2 separate regions of the Homo sapiens genome follow, and region 2 is reported to be linked to region 1. Evidence: microRNA targets listed by miRTarBase, many of them from high-throughput screens and not tested one by one. Region 1 holds a microRNA gene; the other region holds the end of a gene's coding sequence.

Region 1 (4,009 bases):
ACAACACGGACAACCTCTCCTTCGAGTATCGAAGATTAGCACTGATCAAAAAACAAACAAAAAAAATCAAAACAGAACTGCCGAATCTTCGCCGATGTTGGTGTCACCTCCAGGAAGATTCCCCGAATCTACATGGCACTGGGTAGACCAGACGTCAGATGGCTTCTATTTGCGTGTCCCAGGTTGCTTTTGGGAAGTCAGCCAAAAGCTCTTCAAGCCTTCACAATGAAAAGAGGTTGCCCGGGAAACATTTTCCGCCAATACAGAGAACACTTTAGGTACAACCTCTTTCCAGGTATTGGAGCTTTCCTGACGGTGGAACCAGGGTTTCCTTGTGGAAGTCCAGGCCACGGGAAGTGCCCCTAGTCATAATGGTTTGCATCCCAAAGTCAGTGCGTCAAGAGAGCTCATGAGTAAATCTCGAATTCTGTGGTCAAGAAGCAGGTGGCTGGGTCTGCAGTTAGCCGGTGCCCAGGCCCCTGTGTGGCACTGGCCATGGGTCCAAGCAGCCTTCCAGGCAAGGTGTGATTCCAAAAACAGATACATGGCACCGAGGAAGCTGTAAGCAAAGTGAGTGCCTGCTACACACGGCTAGGGAGGGAGGGTCGGGGAAGCCAGGAGCACCGCCAGGCCACCTTCCTCCAGGTCAAATCCCACTTAATGCCTTCTGCTGCCTTCAATCCAATTCAGCAGAATCAAGAAATAAAAACGAATCTCATTTCCTGATGTGAGCTCCCCAAATGTTTTAGCCAATTCTGGGCCGGATTTTCTGTTTGCTATAAAACTCCTTTGACAATAATTGTTTTCATGGTGGGGGGAGTACTGTTATCTCCAGACTCTTTTGCATCTCAACAGAGAGTTAGATCAATCCTGACAGGGCTGGGGAGAATCAGGGGTCAGAAAACTTCAGGTTTCCTCTTACAAAGTTGTAAAATTGTGCCCTCTTTTCCCCCGAAGGTGGACCCCGGAGCAGAGGTCTGAGAAGAAAATCCCAGGGCCAGGCTGCGGCTCTGCACCCTTGCCACCTGTCCTTTGACCCCTCCGTAGCCAGCAGAGCACCCAATCTACATGGACCCAGCAGCCGCCTACCCTGGATACCCCGGAGGCAACAGCATACTGCCTGCTGTCACATGGCCTTGACACACTCTCTCTGCCCTCTCTTTATGAGGGCTCTTTTCGGCTGGAAGGAACGGTGTTTGGGTATCAGCTAATAGGAAGGATTGGTGGCGGAGGTCATTGGTGCTACCTCATATGTTCTCTCTGGTTATAAAAAGCAGGGTTGACATGGAAATACCTGGCCCTTCTCCAGAACCTGAGGCCCTCCTCCCTCACAGTCCCATCCCCAAATGCCACAGATGAGCCGAGGACCCACAGTCACAGCTAAGTGCCATCAAAACAAATGCAGCACCAGCAAAACCTACTTCTGTGCCTTGGCTTTAGAGCTGGCAGGGAGCCTTTTCCTTCCCCAGAGGCTGGCATCACCTCCAGGAAGTCCTCCTGGAAAGGATCGGGCACCAAGCATTACTGCCAGACAGGACGCTTAGAACAGGGGAAGCACCCATCTCGGCCCACTCACCCTGGCCTGGGCCTGACAACTGTCTTATCCGGAAGCCTTCCAAACTGGTGTTTGATACTGAAGAGTGGTCCACAGAAATGATTTATATAAAAGAAACAGATATGCCAAAGGAAACCTCTCCTTGAGCACCCCAAAGAAGGACCATCTGCAGAAACACAACCCTGAGGGTAGGTCAGATGTGCTGGTCAGTGGAGCAGGTGTGTTCCTGGGGAGGTACATGCCCCGTGGTGGGCCATCCACTCCCTTCCCCTGGATCAGGGCTGGTGACAATGCCCTCCCTTCAAGCTGGCATGACATCAAGGATTCCTCCAGATTTAAAGGAAGTCAACTCCACAATTCCTGTGAGAAATAAACAGGTCTCAACCTGGGCCAATTCCAGGGCCCCCAAGGTCTCCTCTTGACCTCAGAATCAGCTTTTCTTCCCTAAGGTGTCATTATATCCAGGACATCCTTTCAGAATAAACTGCAGGCTAGGGGCAGGCGTGCAGGACACCTGCACTATCTGTCCAGGGCATGCTGGCATTCCCCTGCTGTGGGCTGGGCTCATTCAAGCCCATCACTGAGTGTGGCAAGGACGAGGCATCCCCCTACAGCAGGGTCAGATGCCGAAAGAGCCTGAATTACACACACGATCCGTTGGGAGCACAACGAAGGCAACCACAGACAACTCACCTGCATGTTCCGTGACACTGTCGTGGTGACACTGTCTTCCCCCAGGCTGCCATCACATTGAAAAGTCCTCCTAAGAAGGGATAAGACATTGAGGGTTAGCGCAATCGGTGGCAAAATTCAGAAACATGGGGCACGCTTAGTGATCAGCCATTTGCTCGTGTCTCCTTATTTATGTCCACAGCACCCCTTCCCTGAAGCTGAGGTCTGGACCAGAAGGCCTCCAAGATGGGATTTGATACTGGAAAAGAGGTTAACCAGGTGTGTTTCGTCCTCAATAAAGAAACAGAAACCCAGAAAACCTCTCTTCAGGTACCACCAAGTAACACTGACAAGAACACCACTGATTCCTTCCCCAAACTTGACATTCAGTCCTGGAAGTCCTGTTAAATACGGATTGGACACTGGGGTTAGTAGAACAGATGACATCAGTCAAAATAATACAGCACAGGCTTCGTGGTTAACCATAGATTTCTGTCCAGTGGACTGGAGCTGAGAGTAACGCCCTTCCCTGAAGCTGAGGTCTGGACCAGAAGGCCTCCAAGATGGGATTTGATACTGGAAAAGAGGTTAACCAGGTGTGTTTCGTCCTCATTAAAGAAACAGAAACCCAGAAAACCTCTCTTCAGGTACCACTGATTAACACTGACAAGAACACCACTGATTCTTCCCCAGACTTGACATTCAGTGCTGGAAGTCCTGTTAAATATGGAATTGCACACTGAGCGTTAGTTAGTTGATTTGCCGGAAGAAGCCAAGAGTTGGATGCATGCTGCTTGCCAACCATCTATCCAAGTACCCCAGTGGAGCAGACCCCACATCACGTCTGGAAGTTGACATCACAGCCAGAGGTGGTGATGCCATAAAAAGGCTGGTCACAGCAGCTATCGCGTTTAGGGTTAACCTCCAGGGCCATCTTTTCTCAGTTACTCAAGAGAGGCACAGATGCCCCAAAGCAAGGCTGACTCCACCAAAGGTCCTGCTAAGGACCCAGTGGAGACTGAGGTGTGACGGGCCAGGCGACCTTGGTTGTAAATTAAAGTGCATACACTCAGGTCAGCTGATCACTGGAGGACTTTGGGATGGTATAGACAGCATGCCCCTTCCCTTGAACTTGGATGCCTCCACATCTAGGAAGCCCTCCAAGGAAAGAGATCGGAGTGAAAATCAGTCCAACTCAGCCACATTTGGCATACATGTCGCAAACGCCTCGCAGATGCTCTCTTCAGAGTCTAACAGAGTGCAGCTGGCCCCAGTTTACTGTCTCTTTCCCAAAAAGTTGACACCTCTTCCAGGAAGTTCTCCAAGGGGGCATTAGATACTGAGGGTTAGTGGACCAGGTCACAAACGGCACAAATAAAGCGTGTGCTCTCTGGTCAACCATCTCATGTATCCAGGCACGTGCTGACACCACGCTCCTTGTCCGCAAGTTAACCCTGCTGCCAAGCCAGAGCAGTGTGCTGAGAAGAAGGCTGCCACACGTGAGTTATCGTCACACACAAGACAAACACATCACAAACCCCGCTGGGTCACACTGAGCGCAGACCTAGTGGCCCCCACCCCCGCAGTTGATGTTAGCTCCAGGAAAGCTTGCAAGGCGGGATTAGATACTGCAAAGAGGTCGACCGTGTAATGTGCGCCATAAATAAAGCGAACGCGCCACGGACCACCTCTCTCCAAGTACCAAGCAGCAGCCGTACTGACACCAGGACAGTGGCTCTTCCGCAAAGCTGATATCACCTCCTGGAAGTCTTCCAAGGCGAG
Region 2 (4,100 bases), not on the chromosome of region 1:
GGCGTCCTTCTCTTCATGGCACGAAGGAAAGCAGCCAACAGAAGTGCTGGCTTTGGGGAAGCATCGGGTGCCAGGCCCCCCAGATGCTTTGCCCGCTGGGGTTCCCCCCCCTCCTCCTCTTCAAGACACGAGTTTCTGTGGGGCTGAGAGGCCTGGATCGGAGTCCCAAGCTTACTCCTAAGCGTCGGGGTGCTCTCGGGCAATGCATTCAGCCTTCCCATAGGCCTTCCCACCCATCTCTAAGTGAGGGTGCCCTATTAGACCAGGGACGTTTCTCCCGATTTCAGTTCTGTGATTCCTCCTCCTGTGTCCCCACTTTGCGGAGGAGGGGGGGAGTGACTCTGCTGTGTACAGTGTGATGCACATTTGTTGATTGCTCAGATTCTTTGGTGGTTGAGTGTGGGAAGTGTAGCTTTGCCCATCTAAGCTTCTGCCGCTAGGGGGCAGGAAGGAGGAGAGCAAATCCAATTCCCTCTCTGGGCTCCCCTACAGAACTCCCCTACAGTTCTGGGCACTGCCGGCAGGGGGCAGGCCCTCACCCCTGCATCCCTGTTAAAGAAGGGAGTGGGGAAAGCTCTTCCTGCCTTTCCTCTTTCAGGTGTCTCCCGGAGGACCCAGAAATTCGGAACGTTCCCTGGAAATTACGTTGCCCCGGTGTGAGTGGTCTCCATGGCAACTTGGAGCCAGCCAGGATGGGGTGGGGAGCGGTGGCACTCGTGGGAGGGAGAGGACCCCCGCCCACATCCTCCTTCCCCAGGACCTGAGCTCCCAGCATCTGCAGACGACCCCCGCAGCCTTTCCCTCGGACCCCCCTCGAAGCCCCCTGGACTGATTCCCACCCACGACTCACAGGCATTCCTCCCACAGCCCTTTCATTTCCTCCCCACCCCACTCCCCAAATACAGAGGTCTGCTTTGAAGCGGAGACCATTTCCAGGCCTTATTGAGACCAGACCCCAAGTCCCCCACCCCCATCCTGCTCCAGCGTTTCCTCTAACAGGGACCAGCTCTCCGCTTTGCCCCCACGGGGTTCCTCTAACCAGAACCAGCTTCCTAGCCTCGTAGAGACCAAAGGCCGCCCCCGCCTGCTGGGGTTCCTCCCAGCACCCCAGCTTGCTGGCTGCCCTCTTTGCCTTCTGGCCTCCAGCTGGGTGTGGGGGGGCGGAGCAAGGCGGGGGACAGACGCAGCACCTTCTTAGCGATCTAGGCCTGGCAAGAGCTCTGGCCCCAAGGCCTCCTCTTCCCAGGGGCTGCCAAGTCCTGGCCCTGGCCCTGGCATATCACCCCGCACTGTGGGGCCAGGCACCACTAGCCTGGCTCAAATATTCCCCAGGGAGACTGCTGTGTGCTGCCCGCCTGCCTGCTGGCTCTCCCCCAGCCCCACATCCCCTCTGGAAGAGAATGTAAAATAAACCTGGACACAAGGGACCTTGTCTCTGCGGCCTTTTCCTTGGGGTAGGGGATGCCTCCTCCTGTCTAGGAGATGGGAATTCCTTCTGTGGAGGGCTGTGCTGGGAGACAGGTGGGACAGGTGTGTGTGTAAGAGGAGGAGGATGGAAAAACACCATTATTACCTCCAAAGATCTCTGCCCTTGGGTGTCAGGCAGGTTGCGGCAGCCCCCACAATTGGGCAGCTGTGTGGCAAGAAGTGCTGGGAGAATGAACAGTGCCAGGCCCTGGTAGCAGGGAGACACCAGAGATGGGGGACTGAATGTGGCCTTGTTTGCAGACTGTTTTGATTCTGGAGCTGCCACCGTGGGGTTGCTGGGCTAGATGACATTTCTAACTATTCTGCTGTTTTCCTTCTGTGTGCTCTGTTTCCACACCGAAGCCCTTGTGTGTGTGTGTGTGTGTGTGTGTGTGTGTTTATTCTCCTCTTTGGGCTCAGGCTTTTGAGCAATCCTTTGCGGGAAGCTGGGAGTGGTCAAGCACAGCCAGCCAAAACTCCTCTTGAACAAGGGTGTTTTGTTTGTTTGTTTGTTTTTTGTTGTTTTTTTTCTGTGTGAGATGGGGTCTCATTCTTTCGCCCAGGCTGGAGCGCAGTGGCCCGATCTCGGCTCACTGCAGTCTCTGCCTCCCGGCTTCAAGCAATTTTCCCACCTCAGCCTCCTGAGTAGCTGGGATTACAGGGTTGCGGCACCATGCCCAGCTAATTTTTGTATTTTTAGTAGAGATGGGGTTTCACATGTTGGCCAGGCTGGTCTCGAACTCCTGACCTCAGGTGATCCACCCACCTCGGCCTCCCAAAGTGCTGGGATAACAAGCGTGAGCCACCGCGCCCAACCTTGAACAAGGTTTTATAGTCCTGGAGCTTGCAGGTCCCTGTGGGGTGGCAGTGGTGGCACAGTCCAGGCATGGCCACTCTGCCAAGAAAGGAAGCTCCGTTTCTCGGCTGCTGCTGAGAGGTGAGCAGGGCACCAGGGCCTCTCCGTGTGTTACCTAACATGAGCCTCACGATGGCAGGTCATGATTCCATTTTACAGGGGGAGAGACCCAGCCTCTGAGAAATTAAGTTGTCTAGCTCACATCATTATTAAATGCTGAAGTCAGGTCCACCTCACTTCCTGAAATCTACCAAATGCCCAGGCAGCCCTCGTCCAGGGCCCTCGTCCAGGCCCTTGGAGAAGGAAGGTCATGTGTGAGGTCAGGGACTTCTCTAGGGCGGCCCAGGTTGGGCCGCTTTTATGTTCTTCCTGGCAATCCTGTCTTCTAGGCCTGTCACCTGAGACAGGTGTGAAGAGGTGGTGGCTGGAGTGAAAGGTGGTGGTGCCCAGTTCTGTCAGGACAGAGGGGAGGGGCTCGTGGTTGACAGGGCAGTGGCCTAGCCCTGGCTGGTTTCTTGAACCTGGGTGCGGCCTGACCCAGCAGGGGTTCAACAGCAGCTGGAAGAACGAGTCCTCCATCCACCTCCATCCTCACCCTGGTTTGGTTCTAAATGGGCAGGTCCAGCCCATCCTGGCCTGGAAACAACCATTCCTCAGAACCCACTGGCCTGGTTGCCATTCCCCCATCCCAGCTCTTTTTTCATGAACTCCCTGATTCCCTCATAAAACATATCAGGGCTGAGGCCTCCTCTCCCTGGGACAGAGACCAACTCCATGCCCTCTCTTTGATGGAGCGCTGGCACTTCCCGCAGCTAACAAACCCTCCAACCCTGGGCTGCCTGCACCACGGTCCTGCCTGAAAGATGCTTCTGTGCCTCGACTTGGCCTGATTGGGGAGGTGAAGGGAGGATCAGAGGCTGCTGGAGATGGCTCACCCATGAGAGAGGGGAGGGCAGTGATGTGGCTTACCTAGGGCCACAGAGAGGCTATGAGCAGGACATGTCCCCTTCTGTGCCACAGAGGCGTGCCCTGCCTGGGTTCGCTGACTTGTCTTTGTGGTGGGTTTTGTGAATTCACAACCCACCCATCAGAAAGCCCTGCCAGATGAACCTGGGGCTATTTGTAGAGTCTGTCCAAGGCATGCAGGAGGGGCTCTCTGAGGAAATGATGGGCTTGTGTTTGATTCACTCTCCATTCCCAGAGGCAAGCACGGTGCCTGGCACTCAGTATTCACTGAATGAATGTTATTGGAATGATTGTGTGGAAGAATTGAATGGATGAACTTCCCTTCCTTTGGGTCCCTTCCCAGAAGTCCCCACCCCATTTGAGGCAGGGACTCTGTTTGACACCTCTGTGCCATCCTTGGCTTTTGCTTGTGGCCAAGCAATTTTTACAACAAGACGGTAAGCAGCACATTATCCCCATTTTCCACATGGGGAAACTGAGGCCCGGAGGAGCCGAGGAGGTTGCTGAAGGTCACACAGCCGGTGAGACGCAGCTGTGCACTTGGGGCTAGGTCTGTGTGCCCCCGGGGCTGTGCTCACCCTGCCTGTAGTTGCCTCTCCCCTCAAGGGGCTTCCAGTCTAGTCAGGGAGGCAGAGCAGGTACGTCAGGCCAGGCGGTCATGCCGGGAGGCCGGAGACCAGCCCGTGGGAGAGGAGTTTACACACACCCAGGACGGTCTGTGGGAGGAGGGGGGCCAGAGTGTGAACGCAAGGAGGCTGAGACGCGGGCACAGACAGGTGAGGGGCGTGGGGAGGGCACTCTTCACAGAGTG

Evidence for each region. Region 1 holds the annotated microRNA hsa-miR-329-3p (AACACACCUGGUUAACCUCUUU, at 2,809-2,830, opposite strand). A microRNA usually pairs through its seed, bases 2 to 8, with sites in the 3' UTR of a target mRNA and lowers its output. Matches are read on the target gene's strand: a 7mer-m8 pairs with bases 2 to 8, a 7mer-A1 pairs with bases 2 to 7 and ends in A, and an 8mer does both.
Region 2: miRTarBase lists SORBS3 as a target of hsa-miR-329-3p. Seed matches in the 3' UTR shown: 7mer-m8 at 1,530-1,536 and 7mer-A1 at 1,535-1,541.

The regions. Positions count from the first base shown.
Region 1 is chr14:101,025,655-101,029,663 of GRCh38, reverse strand. It overlaps MIR329-1 (microRNA 329-1), which reads right to left and starts at 2,879; the gene lies at 2,800-2,879. LOC124903407 (mucin-2-like) reads right to left here. Exons shown (of 5, transcript XM_047432049.1): 5 at 1-4,009. It overlaps MIR323A (microRNA 323a), which reads right to left and starts at 3,932; the gene lies at 3,847-3,932. MIR758 (microRNA 758) reads right to left here and starts at 3,644; the gene lies at 3,557-3,644. It also overlaps MIR329-2 and MIR494.
Region 2 is chr8:22,574,069-22,578,168 of GRCh38, forward strand. SORBS3 (sorbin and SH3 domain containing 3) reads left to right here. Exons shown (of 21, transcript NM_005775.5): 21 at 599-1,720. The coding sequence ends at 660. Among named protein-coding and RNA genes, the nearest start is that of PDLIM2, 4.4 kb to the right of the region's middle. RefSeq lists an enhancer at 260-978 and a silencer at 368-517.